2 linked regions of the Homo sapiens genome follow. The protein of the gene in region 2 interacts with the protein of the main gene of each other region in a biochemical or structural test. Each region holds a gene or a part of one and is shown on either strand. Other genes may lie near its edges.

What was found. Proteins that work in one complex are often made in the same cells at the same time.
Region 1: the proteins of ATN1 (region 2) and ZNF608 form a complex in vitro, tested with the Homo sapiens proteins (one study listed by IntAct).

Annotation. Positions count from the first base shown.
Region 1 is NC_000005.10:124,743,640-124,751,289, forward strand, and holds the start of ZNF608 (zinc finger protein 608), read right to left. Parts: upstream 3,001-7,650; 5' UTR 2,556-3,000; exon of another isoform or gene 1,534-2,555; 5' UTR 1,351-1,533; coding exon 445-1,350; intron 1-444. UniProt on the Homo sapiens protein: Transcription factor, which represses ZNF609 transcription.
Region 2 is NC_000012.12:6,937,215-6,943,441, forward strand, and holds the end of ATN1 (atrophin-1), read left to right. Parts: coding exon 1-347; intron 348-630; coding exon 631-853; intron 854-1,266; coding exon 1,267-1,963; intron 1,964-3,665; coding exon 3,666-3,809; intron 3,810-4,159; coding exon 4,160-4,340; intron 4,341-4,532; coding exon 4,533-4,566; 3' UTR 4,567-5,107; downstream 5,108-6,227. UniProt on the Homo sapiens protein: Transcriptional corepressor. Recruits NR2E1 to repress transcription. Promotes vascular smooth cell (VSMC) migration and orientation. Corepressor of MTG8 transcriptional repression.

The DNA.
Region 1 (7,650 bases), on a different chromosome or scaffold from region 2:
GGACACATTACCCGCAATACTAGGATGAATAAATTAAAATAGAAAACTGTTCCCCTTAAGGAAGAAAGCAGGACAAGAGTCAAGAGGGTGCATGAGCAGGTTTTCTATTAAAAGCACACGGCAACCTGCTGACTAGTGAGGAACCGATCTACAGGGCAAAAGGTACTTAGAACACTCAGGCCCTCCCACCTGGGAACCCAAACACTAGCATCACAAGCAGCAGCAGCAGCAGCAGCAGCAGCAAGGACAGCAGAAGCAAGAGCCAAACACTGCACCCAAGTAGGCTCCCCCATATCAAATTTTAATATAAAGGATGCATATCATAGAAATCTCACAAAGAACCAGAAAGCATAAAGTGTAAGGCACACAGAGGCACACCCCCACACACCCACACAAATGCACACAGAGGAGAGTAGGACATCTAGGAAGGCGACTTTATCCTACCTTCTCAGTTTTCAGTTTCTTGATTCGCCTGTGGCTCTCCTCCTCCTCCTCTTCCTTCTTTACCAACATAGAGTTTCCCATGAGCCCTGAATCCGGGGCACTTTTGCTAACTTCCCCTGCAGCGGCGACGCTGCCACTCCCAGTGCCCCCGCAGTGGAAGGGGCTCGCGCCACCTCCATTGCTCTTGGCCCCAAAGCCATAGAGGTGCCCCCCGGAAGGGGCCTGGCTGCCACTGCCATTCTGGTGGCCCTGAAGCAGGTCGTGCTTGTCCTTCCTGGATTTCCCCGCATCCTTATCCCGCTTGGCGCCTCGGCTGCTCTGGCTTTTACCTGGCTTCTCCTCTTTGCTTTTCCCACAGGAGCCTGCCCCCGCGGTGGCGGCAGAGGTGCTGGTGCTGGTACTATTGCTGTTTGGGTTGCCGCTGCCGCCGCTGCTCACACTTTGACCCAGCGCTGAATTCATGCCAGTTGCCTCTCCAGGGCGCCCTTGGACTTCCTGCCTCTTGCCAGTGCTGCTGATCTCGGGAATCCCATACAAGGCAGCAGAAGGCAGAGATTTATTAGCATCCTTAGAAGTTTTACTCCTTTTCACTTTTGATTTGCTGGTCTCTTTGTGTGAATTCCCCTGGGGAGCAGAGGCCTGAACAGAAGCAAATTTTAGGCCATCAGCTAAGGCTGCGGTAGCACCAGCCCCACTGGAGGCCGGACCTCCACAATCCTTGGAGTTGCTGCTACTAGTGGTGGTGGTGGAATTATTCATCTCAAATTTCTGTCTGTCCTTCTCCAAATCAGCGTCCAAATCAATTATTAAATTTCCAACCCCGATTTCCCAATCATCGCCACTGTCATAAGTATCAACTGTATTTGGATCCACACCTTTTCCTGCAGTAGAAATGTTCACTGACATCCTGAAGATGAGCTCTCTAGAATAAAAATCCGATGAACTTTTCTTTGGAGATGAGGGGACATTCGTTTATCTCCGCTGGGCTTTCTCTCAAAGAAAAAAAAAATCTTCTAATCTTCCTCTTCTTTTTCCTGCCCCACGAATGTGTCCAGGGATTTTACACCCTCAGTCCAGGTCCACCTTTTCCTGTGAAGGGGGGGGGAAAAGTCGAATATTTCTTGTCTGGGTGTTACCAGAATAAAAAACGATTAGTATTGGGGAATCAGTAAAGGGGACAGGGAAGGATGGAGAGTAAGGTGGCTCATGTATTGTCCTCACAGTCCAATATCAGGTTTAAAGGAAAATAACCAAACCCGAAAAATAAACCTATGACAGTAAGCATCTTACGGTAGCTAAAAAGAAAATCCCTTTATCAACAACACAAGGATAATCACCTTTTTAAAAGCATTAAATTATCTTAAGGATCTGATTCAAGTCCAGAAAGGTTTTTGTGTTCTTTTTTAAAGTTTAGGATTTCAGTCTGGCACATGTGATATCTCAACCCCAGAAACACAGCCTGAACACTCAGACAAGAAGGAAGAACACAGCTTTAAACATCCCTAAACATGTCCTAGATCTTGCAATTTAGAAGACCAGACCCTGGAAGTTCTGAGGCTAGTTTTCAGAATAGAATGTTGCTAAATTTTCCTTATTTCTAATTTAGGTTTCAGTACTTCTTTTTACAAATTGTCTGGGCAATCTGTTTTTTGTTCCTAGTAAGGAACAGAAAAAACAACCAATAACTGCCCCCAACACACACACATACCTCCCTCCTATCCTCTTTTCCCAAACAGCTTCTACAATTTCTTTTTTGAAATATGCATGTCTTTTAAGAGCATTTCTCTCTAGAAAAGACAGTGTTATATAAAAAGTTAAATACCTGCCTTTTGAGAAAAAAATACATTTAAACAATTCTACCATATTCCTAGGTCAGAGAATTGCTCACTCTCTTAAATACGGTGCTACTGACTGTACAGAAAACTGATTAAGACATACACTTTAAGTGATCTGCGCCAAGGTGGCCTCAATGACCGCAAATGAGTGTGTTTGACAAAGAGCAGTTAAAACGGTTTTTAAAGGGATCAGCCCCTTTTTAACAGTTGATTGTCAAGAAAAAAATAAATAAATATACATACACACACACATACACACACACAGACATTGCTTACCTTTTAATCCTTTATCATTTTTTAATTAGGCCAGCAAATCAAAATGCCTTTCCCACTCCACTCGGCAAACAAGCCTGTGCCTCATTTTACTTAAACACCAAATGATCAAGAAGGAAGAAACCAAATAACACATCTCAGCCAGAATAATCACTCGATAACATTATTCCACCTCCCCACCCCCCTTTTGGCAAACGAATCAGTCCTTTTCTCCTTAAAAAAAATGTGTCACTGTACAGCTGGAAAATAATGTTTCACATTCACAACAGAAGCACCAAAGGTTTTTTTTTCCTCTTAACAAGCATCGAGAATAATAGTTTTTTAAAAAACAGAGAGTTTAGAGAAAAAAGTTTTCCCAACTTCTCATTCCGCCTTCAGTTCCAGACTTCAGAGTCACCGTGATCAGTAATGATCCCATGTAGCAAACCTACAGGCGTCCGCTAGTAACGAGACAGAATGTGCTAACATCGGGATAAATTAGTGAAAGGGAAGAAAGAATAAGAAGAAAGGACTGAAAATCTGGGCTGGATTCCGCCTGTTAGTCGGGAAGTGGCATTTTTCCGCCCGTCCTGACAGATTTGATTTCTTGAACTAACTTAAGAGAAAAGGAGGGGGGGAGTAGAGGGAGGAGGAGGAGAAGAAAGGGTGGGATGAGAAACTGGGCAAGAGGAGAAAAAGAAAGGTGTGGAGGAGGAGACAGCAGATGATTCAGTGAGCTGATAAACCAGTTATAACAGCATTCGCTCGGGGCGGGGGGCGGGGGGCTTGGGGCGGTGGGGTGGGGAAAATAACGGCGTTTAAAATGGGCTCAGTCTTCGAAACCTAAAGGATGTGATGTTTTCCTGTCTTATGTTGTTTTAAGAAAAAGGAACTGAGTTCCTAGTATAGCTCCCGAGGGGAGTGGAATCCTCTGTCGCTCAGGTCAGCCAGTCATGTGGTAATTCGATAATTAGAGTCAAAATAAGGTTTTTGTTTTCTTTTTTTTTTTTTTTAAGGCGACCCTTTTCGGGAGTTTTTCCCTCTTATACTCGCAGCAAACGGTGTGTCTCCCTTTTATTTATTTTTTCTCTCCTCTCCCTTCGCCCAGCCCCTCCTGTGTTTAGTCAGATGGCCCCGGAGCTTGGCTTAGTATTTTTAATTAGCTGGCGTTTGGAAGCTAAAAGCAGTAATGAATTGTTGATGGATTGGAAGTGGAGAGTCGCTTTGCTGGAAATGTCGGGGCTGGGAGAGGGGGATGGGCGAGTTAGTAACAACCAACCATCTAAAAGGAGCGATTTTGTTACAGTGCAAGCCTTTCACATCACGTGAGGATCAAGGGCTCAATTGGTTGTCGTGAGAACAAAAATGGTGACAAGCGTATCAAGAAAATACTGATCTGGTCTTTAAAAAAAAAAAAGCTGAAAGTCTCTCCCCTCCCCCTGCACACACTCCCCCAACCTCCTCCCCCCGCCCCCCCGCAGTGGGCGAAGCTACAAGTTATGAATGTGAAACATTTCTCGGAGATCTAGGATCTCCGAAGTTCGGAAGGAGCGAAATGTAATGAGCACAAGAGCAAAGCAGATGTTTTAAAGAAACACTTTATAAACCTTTCCTCAACTTATCTCCAATTTGTCGGCTTTCCCAAGGGGCCAGGGACGGGGACGCCTGGGGGAGGGAGAAGGGTATCTCCGAGCTACTTGGATTTTAGGGACCCCCACTTCATGTATTAAACAAAGAAAAACCTTTTGCTTGCTCCCCAGCCTGGTCCTGTAATAAATACACCATTGTTACTATTTGTGGGTTTGTTTGGGTTGGGTGGGGCTTTTATTTTTTCTCTTAATGGTATTTTTGTTGCTTGCTTTTTTAAGGAGATGGCGAATGGTAATTATAACCATTACATGTAATGAGTGACTATTCCCTTGTTTAATATTAAATTATCGGGCACTGGGATCTGACAGGAGACAGAAATCGGCTTGTTCTGCCCTTGCCCCCATTTTCCTGGATCGCTTTGGGAGGGGGGTCTGCCCAGCTAGGACAGAAGAGGGAGGGAGTAAGGTGAGCTAGAGAATTGACACTGCAGACCAGGATATGCAACTGTGTCACTTTTATTCTCCTTTGGGTTAGAGCCCAAAAGCTAATTTCCTCTAAGTTACCCCGAGTGCCCAGTCAAGCTTAATTTGTGTGAAGTTACAAATGCTTCACCCTCCACTGAATAAAATTCACCCTTCTTGGGTTGTTGTTCTAAATGCAAAAGCCAAACCCTGTAACTAGTTCCTCATTTCTATGCATAAAACTCGCACATTCCCCTGCATGAAGTCCCCGCTAAGTGCTATATAGAGACACACCACGCAACCGTACTTACGGTCTGTATTGGATCGAGTTGACCTTTTCCTTCTAACTGCATTGAATGTGTTTGGTTGCAGCCGCTTTATTTTGGAAATTATAATCTCTTCAACAAATTTATTATTAAAGAAGATGGACCATCAAATGTCACAGACCGTCCTGTGTATTTTTTATAAAAGCAAAAATTAAAATTTAAAAAAAGCAAAACAAAAATCCCCCTGGTGCACACACACAACAAGCTTGTTCTGCAACACTAAATCAGGACTGAAACACAACACACACACAGGGGGAGTGGAGCAAAAGAAGCTCTCAGCCTCTATACCTGAAAGGGACTTTTCTTTGTTCCCAGTGCCCTTTCGCATCGGGCCAATCAGAGAGCAGCTTTTATGAAACTGGGCTCTCTCATTGGCTAGCTGCTTTCTCTTGGCTACTGTAGGGGGTTGAGATATACACACGTATAAAACACACACTGAGAGCGGGTGGGGGTGCTGTGGGGGGTGGTTGTGGAGACAAAGCGTTTTATTTTCCAACCAGATTGGGGTTGAGGAACCTCCCGCAGTAAGAAGGCAAAAAAATGGTGCGCCCCTTTCAATTACTACATCATTCACATAAAACACTTATTTATTAAAACAAATCTCAAACAGGCTGCGAGGAGAGGATGTCGGTAAATACAAGTTTGATTGTGTTATCTTGGGGGAAATAATGTATGTGATCGCTCGGTGGCAGAGAGAAGCCAAACGAGCCGCTAGCGCGTAGCGAAGAGAAAAGGGAGGCTGGCTGTGTGGAACTGACTGCGAGCATTTTGCCGGCTTCCCTTCCTTGTTCCAAGGACTTCGCAGCCCAACTCCCAAGACTGATTTTCTGTATTGCAGCTTCTGGCTTTCAACCCTCCCCCCACCACTTTGCCCTTCCTGCAGTTTTTTTTTTTTTTCTTCCCTGTGTCTCTCTTTTTACTCGCTGATTAAATAAGAAAAATCGATCTGCGGGTAAAGGCGATGGTGGGGAAACAAGTAACCCTTTTGTTTCCAGGGCTCTGGTCTACAGGCACTGAAGTGTGAACGCAGGCGACCATTTAACCAACACTATGTGAATGGTTCTTCCCTGGAATTAGTAACAAATCTTTTCCACCTGGTGTTATGTGACTCCAAAAAAGAAAAACTTAATATTAAAATAAGGCCCCAGCTAAACATAGTAACACCTCGGGCCAGCCTCATCTTTTAAAAAATCGACTTATGAAAGTTAAATGTACTAGGAAGATTAACTGTTAAACAGTCCCAGTACACGTATTTAAACTGTGGAAGGGTCAGAATTCCTCTTCCCCCATATCTTTAACCCCACTGGTGGGGAAGGGGGCATCATGAATCCTCTGAATGCTACATCTACAATCCACAAACACAGAAATATTTTAGAATTTATTGTAGGACAAATGCCAGCAACCAAGTTAATGAGACTCAGCTCATAGGATAAGAGAGGTTAATATGAAATAACAAGTTTAACATTTTACTATAACAGCTAACATATTTAAGCTAATGTATTTACATATATTAAGCCTTTAGAGTACATTTAATTTTTAATTTTTTATTGTTACCTTCATTGTTTTTAGAAGCTACAATATGGACATTTGAAAGTCAAAGGTTACTGTAAACTGAAAGCATCATGATCCCAAGTTTTAAAGATCCAGTACTACTGGGATTGTAATTTCCACGTGACAATTGTAATTTAAGGTTGTGTCTTAACTGAGTCATATGGACATGTAAAGTGAATGAGTGCTAGCAGAAGACAGCTTCTGATGTAAATATTCAGTGATGACTTCGTGGATCAATAAAAATATTTATGTCACATATTTTAAATAATGGCTATTGACTCATGTTTGAGCTTTCAATATATTTAGTCCATAAAAAAATTGCCAATTAGCTGTTTCACTACCATAAATGAACTAGATTTGAGGCTGCAAATAGTAATAAACAGCAGTTTCCACCCTTTATTGGGACATATAAACCAGAGGAATGCAATCTGTACTAGTCCTTAGCTCTCCCTAAGTCAATTTGTATTCAAATCAAAGCTGTACTTTAACAAATAAAATGGGCAAATTAGGGATCTGATATCTACCTAGCCTCCATTTTAGCTTTGAGATTTGTTTTATATTTTTGAATATACAGATTTTACATTTGTGTATGCCCCATTGATAAGAATACAGCACCATACTGTTTTTTAACTTTTCTTCTTCTAAAAGAGTGATTTCTCAAAGGATCAGATCACTCTTGGGCACTTCCTGTGTCCCTGGGGTGTCATCTACATCTCAGCCTTTGGAAGCCCATGCCTACCCCATATGTTATATTAGTTTGGAAATAATATATAGGTAGTTCTTAAAAGAATGGGACATTTAAAAATGAGACCTAGTGAAGCTGGAGAAGATTGGAGTTCCTCCAATACAAAACAAATTACAGCGTCTGCAGCACAGATGAAGTCTAACTAAAACCAAAGTTTAGGGTTTGTAATAATCAAATAATCTAATCTAACCCGAGCTTCAACACTTAAACCCAAACCTTAAACCTTTCTGAGAAACCCTACTGGCCCAAGATGAAGGCTTAGGCCCGACTCTACCACATATTTAACCCAAACCATTTTGATAAATTAAAGTATTTCCTTCCATTCCAACATCTCCACACTCCATTTACACCCCACCCCCACCTCCTTCCTCCCAGGTTCTTCCAGGAGACTTTTGAATAAACCAGTGTTGTCAGACTGGCTTTTCTTGTGTTTGTTTTGTTTTGTT
Region 2 (6,227 bases):
AAGACAGCCACCCCACCCGGATACAAACCCGGGTCGCCTCCCTCCTTCCGAACGGGGACCCCACCGGGCTATCGAGGAACCTCGCCACCTGCAGGCCCAGGGACCTTCAAGCCGGGCTCGCCCACCGTGGGACCTGGGCCCCTGCCACCTGCGGGGCCCTCAGGCCTGCCATCGCTGCCACCACCACCTGCGGCCCCTGCCTCAGGGCCGCCCCTGAGCGCCACGCAGATCAAACAGGAGCCGGCTGAGGAGTATGAGACCCCCGAGAGCCCGGTGCCCCCAGCCCGCAGCCCCTCGCCCCCTCCCAAGGTGGTAGATGTACCCAGCCATGCCAGTCAGTCTGCCAGGTGAGCGGCCAGGTGGGGCGGAGGTGGGCCTGGAAAGGGGACGACGACAAGGCGGCGACGAGAGAGGGAGTAGCAGGGAGGGGCCTTGCGCTGGTGTAGTGTTTTAGAAAAGCACGCCCCTCTCCTCCGTCCAGGCCTAGTGGCCAGTGAGGCCCGCAGCAGCTCACAGCCTGCAGGGGTGGTTTTGAGGCGGGGGCTACAAGCACTCGCCGGGGCCGCGGCGCTGCGGGCTCCATCGGGCAGCTCGCACCGCCTGAGCGCCCGCTGCTTCCACGCCCGGCAGGTTCAACAAACACCTGGATCGCGGCTTCAACTCGTGCGCGCGCAGCGACCTGTACTTCGTGCCACTGGAGGGCTCCAAGCTGGCCAAGAAGCGGGCCGACCTGGTGGAGAAGGTGCGGCGCGAGGCCGAGCAGCGCGCGCGCGAAGAAAAGGAGCGCGAGCGCGAGCGGGAACGCGAGAAAGAGCGCGAGCGCGAGAAGGAGCGCGAGCTTGAACGCAGCGTGGTGAGTGCGTCACTGCCTGCGCCACCGCCTTCTTTCCCTCTTTCCTTCCTTCCCTCTGCGCTGCGCTGCGCTACGCTACGCTGCGGGGCTGTGGCTGGGTGGGCGGGCGAGTCACGTCGCCACCTGTCGGAGGGGAGGTACCACTGCAGCCCAGGAAATGGAGCCCAAAAGGTTTTCAGCGAGAGCCATCTGCATTCCTGGGTTGGGAAAAGGCATGCTCAGATGGGACTACCTGTGGATCCCAAGAAGGGCAAATATTCGGGAGCGGGGGCCGCAGTTAAGTTCCAGGTGGGCAGAGTTTCAATGAGTTGAGGCATTTTGGCATTCGGCTGTCGAAACAAATGGGCAGCTTAAAACCAGCCACCTCTTTTCATAACTGCCGCTTTGACTCCACTTTTCCCTGTATCCCACAGAAGTTGGCTCAGGAGGGCCGTGCTCCGGTGGAATGCCCATCTCTGGGCCCAGTGCCCCATCGCCCTCCATTTGAACCGGGCAGTGCGGTGGCTACAGTGCCCCCCTACCTGGGTCCTGACACTCCAGCCTTGCGCACTCTCAGTGAATATGCCCGGCCTCATGTCATGTCTCCTGGCAATCGCAACCATCCATTCTACGTGCCCCTGGGGGCAGTGGACCCGGGGCTCCTGGGTTACAATGTCCCGGCCCTGTACAGCAGTGATCCAGCTGCCCGGGAGAGGGAACGGGAAGCCCGTGAACGAGACCTCCGTGACCGCCTCAAGCCTGGCTTTGAGGTGAAGCCTAGTGAGCTGGAACCCCTACATGGGGTCCCTGGGCCGGGCTTGGATCCCTTTCCCCGACATGGGGGCCTGGCTCTGCAGCCTGGCCCACCTGGCCTGCACCCTTTCCCCTTTCATCCGAGCCTGGGGCCCCTGGAGCGAGAACGTCTAGCGCTGGCAGCTGGGCCAGCCCTGCGGCCTGACATGTCCTATGCTGAGCGGCTGGCAGCTGAGAGGCAGCACGCAGAAAGGGTGGCGGCCCTGGGCAATGACCCACTGGCCCGGCTGCAGATGCTCAATGTGACTCCCCATCACCACCAGCACTCCCACATCCACTCGCACCTGCACCTGCACCAGCAAGATGCTATCCATGCAGGTGAGACCCCTCCTTCCTTGCCCTGGCCCTTTGGGGCCACCTTCCCCCTATCATGACTGGGCTCTTTCATTCCTATGGCCAAGACTTTCCTCCCCTGGCCTGGCATGAACCTTTCCTGAGATTGCTGCCCTGAACTTTGCCTCCCTGACGTTCTCTCAGCCTTGTCTTCTCATGGCCTTCCCTGGCCACAAAGCCTGTATGCCCCACAGCCCAGTTCTCTCCATAGTCTAGTATCCTTCCCATGACAGAGGCCCACACGGGAGCTTTTGAAGGACACTTTTCTATTCTCACAGCCCCATTCTCCCAAGCCCTTCACAAACCTGTCTTCTTATTTATTTTTTTGAGACATGGTCTGGCTCTGCCACCCAGGCTGGAGTGTAGTGGCGCAATCACAGCTCACTGCAGCCTCGACTTCCCGGTCTCAAGTGATCCTCCTACCTCAGCCTCTGGAGTAGCTGGGATTACAGGCGTGTGTCACCATACCTGGCTACTTTTTGTATTTTTGGTAGAGACGGGGTTTCGCCATGTTGGCCATGGCTGGTCTCAAATTCCTGAGCTCAAAGCGATCCACCCACCTCGGCCTCCCAAAGTCCTGAGATTACAGGCGTGAGCCACCGTGCCCAACCCACAAACCTATCTTCTGATTTCTCTGGATTCAACTCATTTTTTGCCATTTTCTCCTCTTCTCCCTCTGCGAGGTCTTTCATGTTTTTCCCCATCTCTAGATCTGTAACTTTCTAGAAAGGGCCCTGTAGCTTTGGGTTTGGGTGTCATAGGCGATAATGAGCTTTACTTACTATCCTTTCACCATTTTTTGGTTTTTGAGACGGAGTCTCGCCCTGTCACCAAGCTGGAGTGCAGTGGCGCGATCTCGGCTTACTGCAACCTCCGCCTCTGGGGTTCAAGTGATTCTTCTGCCTCAGCAGGCACTGCCTGCCCGAGTAGCTGGGACTGCAGGCGTGTGCCACCAAGTACAGCTAATTTTTGTATTTTTAGTAGACACGGGGTTTCACCATGTTGGCCAGGATAGTCTTGATCTCTTGACCTTGTGATCCACCCGCCTTGGCCTCCCAAAGTGCTGGAATTACAAGCGTGAGCCACCGCACCCGGCTTCCTTTTTTTCTTTTGCCCAGACTGGAGTGCAGTGGCGCGATCTCGGCTCACTGCAGCTTCCACCTCCCAGGTTCAAGCGATTCTCCTGCCTCAGCCTCCCGAGGAGCTGGGACTATAGGCGTGTGCCACCCTGCCTGGCTAATTTTTTTGTATTTTTTGTAGAAACAGGGTTTCACCATCTTGGCCAGGCTGGTCTTGAACTCCTCACCTCAGGTGAGCTGCCTGCCTCAGCCTCCCAAAGTGCTGAGATTATAGGCTTGAGCCACTGTGCCCGGCCTCTTCTTGTCTTATTTTCTAAACTTCTATCATCTTCCACCTTCTTCACGCAGTCTACCTCTCTCTGTCCTTCCCCTCAGACCCTTCTGATGACTGTAATCTCCTGTCCTGTGTCATCCATATGTCCCTCCTCCAGTAGGGCTCAGCCTGTCCACCCCTGCCAGGCCTCTAGTTCTTCCACTCTGCCTTTGTTCCACTTTGGACCTCCTTGTGTTTGTCTGACTCAGTTCCCAGGCTTGGATCCCTTCACCCAAATGCATGGTTTGCCCCAAACCTGCCTTCTGGTGACACCTTCCTCTTCTCTGCCCTCCAGCCTCTGCCTCGGTGCACCCTCTCATTGACCCCCTGGCCTCAGGGTCTCACCTTACCCGGATCCCCTACCCAGCTGGAACTCTCCCTAACCCCCTGCTTCCTCACCCTCTGCACGAGAACGAAGTTCTTCGTCACCAGCTCTTTGGTAAGGATGGAAGTTGGGGTAGGCAGCTCCAATGAGAAAAGGGCAGAAAGGAGGTATTTGGGTGGGGGGATGGGCCTAGTTGGGCTTGGGGAGGGATGAGGAGGTGCCTAGAGGAGCTGGGCATGGGAATAGGAGAGCTGGAGCTCTGCCCAAGAGAAGCACGAGTTTTAGTGTCAGCCTAAGAGGTTCGAATCCCAATTCCACCCTACCACTGGCAACTTACAGAACTGGGTGTGTTACCTCACTTTTTAGTTCATTACCTTTGTATGTAAAGGAGCTGGCTATCCCCTGGTCCAGAGCAGGTACTTGTTATCCGTTGGTCATATGCCCCTTGCCCTTCCTGCTCACAGCTGCCCCTTACCGGGACCTGCCGGCCTCCCTTTCTGCCCCGATGTCAGCAGCTCATCAGCTGCAGGCCATGCACGCACAGTCAGCTGAGCTGCAGCGCTTGGCGCTGGAACAGCAGCAGTGGCTGCATGCCCATCACCCGCTGCACAGTGTGCCGCTGCCTGCCCAGGAGGACTACTACAGGTACCCTAGGGTGCCCCAGCCCAGGGGACATGGGCTCAGCGAGCCTGGGAGGAGCTGTGGGCATGGTACGGCTGGGCACCGTGCTCCTGGGGGAGGGAACCCCTCCTCTCCCAACCCCTTCGGTAAGAGGGGGCAAGGTCAGAGTTGGTCTCAAGTCTCTTACCTCTCTGCTATGCACTGCCCCTTCCCTAGTCACCTGAAGAAGGAAAGCGACAAGCCACTGTAGAACCTGCGATCAAGAGAGCACCATGGCTCCTACATTGGACCTTGGAGCACCCCCACCCTCCCCCCACCGTGCCCTTGGCCTGCCACCCAGAGCCAAGAGGGTGCTGCTCAGTTGCAGGGCCTCCGCAGCTGGACAGAGAGTGGGGGAGGGAGGGACAGACAGAAGGCCAAGGCCCGATGTGGTGTGCAGAGGTGGGGAGGTGGCGAGGATGGGGACAGAAAGCGCACAGAATCTTGGACCAGGTCTCTCTTCCTTGTCCCCCCTGCTTTTCTCCTCCCCCATGCCCAACCCCTGTGGCCGCCGCCCCTCCCCTGCCCCGTTGGTGTGATTATTTCATCTGTTAGATGTGGCTGTTTTGCGTAGCATCGTGTGCCACCCCTGCCCCTCCCCGATCCCTGTGTGCGCGCCCCCTCTGCAATGTATGCCCCTTGCCCCTTCCCCACACTAATAATTTATATATATAAATATCTATATGACGCTCTTAAAAAAACATCCCAACCAAAACCAACCAAACAAAAACATCCTCACAACTCCCCAGGAACATGGCTGTGACTATTCTTTGCGGGATATGGGGGTGAGGCTGGGTCTCAGTGCAGCGGTGCTTAGAGAGAACTGCAGCCAGGGCCTGGCAGGGAAGCGGGAAGAGACCAGACCTTCTTAAGGAACGGGGTGTGGGGGCTGGGAAGAATTGGAGAGGGGATCCCTGAAGAGCCCAGAGCCTTGACTCAGCTGGAGGCGGTACCATGGGTGCTGGTGCCCCCTCCTGCCCCAAGGCTGGGCAGGACCGCTGCGCGCCAGTGGAGGCCTCGGTCTGGGCTCTGTGGCTTATGCCTGTGAGACGCGGGTGGATTGCTTGAGCCCAGGAGTTGGAAACCAGCTTGGGCAACATAGAGAAACCCCATCTTAAGACAAAATCAGCTGGGGGTTGTGGTGCACTTGTGGTCCCAGCTACTCAGGAGGCTGAGGTGGGAGGATCACTTGGGGGTCGAGGCTACAGTGAGTCATGATCGCACCACTGCACTCTAGCCTGGGTGACAGAGCAAGGCCCTATCTCAAAACAAACAAACAAAAGACACCCCAACCAACCAAACACTAGAGGCCTGGGACAGGCCCACCTCTGACGTGGTCAGTTCTAGGAATCTATTCAGACGGGTCTCACTGCTAGGAGCCACCAGAGTCCTCCGGAACAAGGGCTTCAGAGTCCTGAAACCTTTCCGTGGAATACTTTAAGAAACGGTTATGAGGCCAGGCGCGACGGCTCACGCTGGTAATCCCAGGACTTTGGGAGGCCGAGGCGGGCGGATCACGAGGTCAGGAGTTCCAGACCAGCTTGGCCAACATGGCAAAACCCTGTCTCTACTAAAAACAAAACATTAGCTGGGCATGGTGGCGCGCGCCTGTCGTCCCAGCGACTTGGGAGGTTGAGGCAGGAGAATCGCTTGAACCCGGGAGGTGGAGGTTATGGTGAGCCAAGATCCCCCCCAGCTGCACTCCAGCTTGGCGACAGAGCAAGACTCCGTCTCAAAAACAAAAAACAAAGCCGGTTATGAAGCGGGGGTGGGGTGGGCTAGTTTTAATAGGTCCAGGCGATTAGTACCTGGCATCCTTAACCACCTACAGTTTGAGAAGGGAGTGGGTGATAAAAGCCTGGAAGGGAAGGG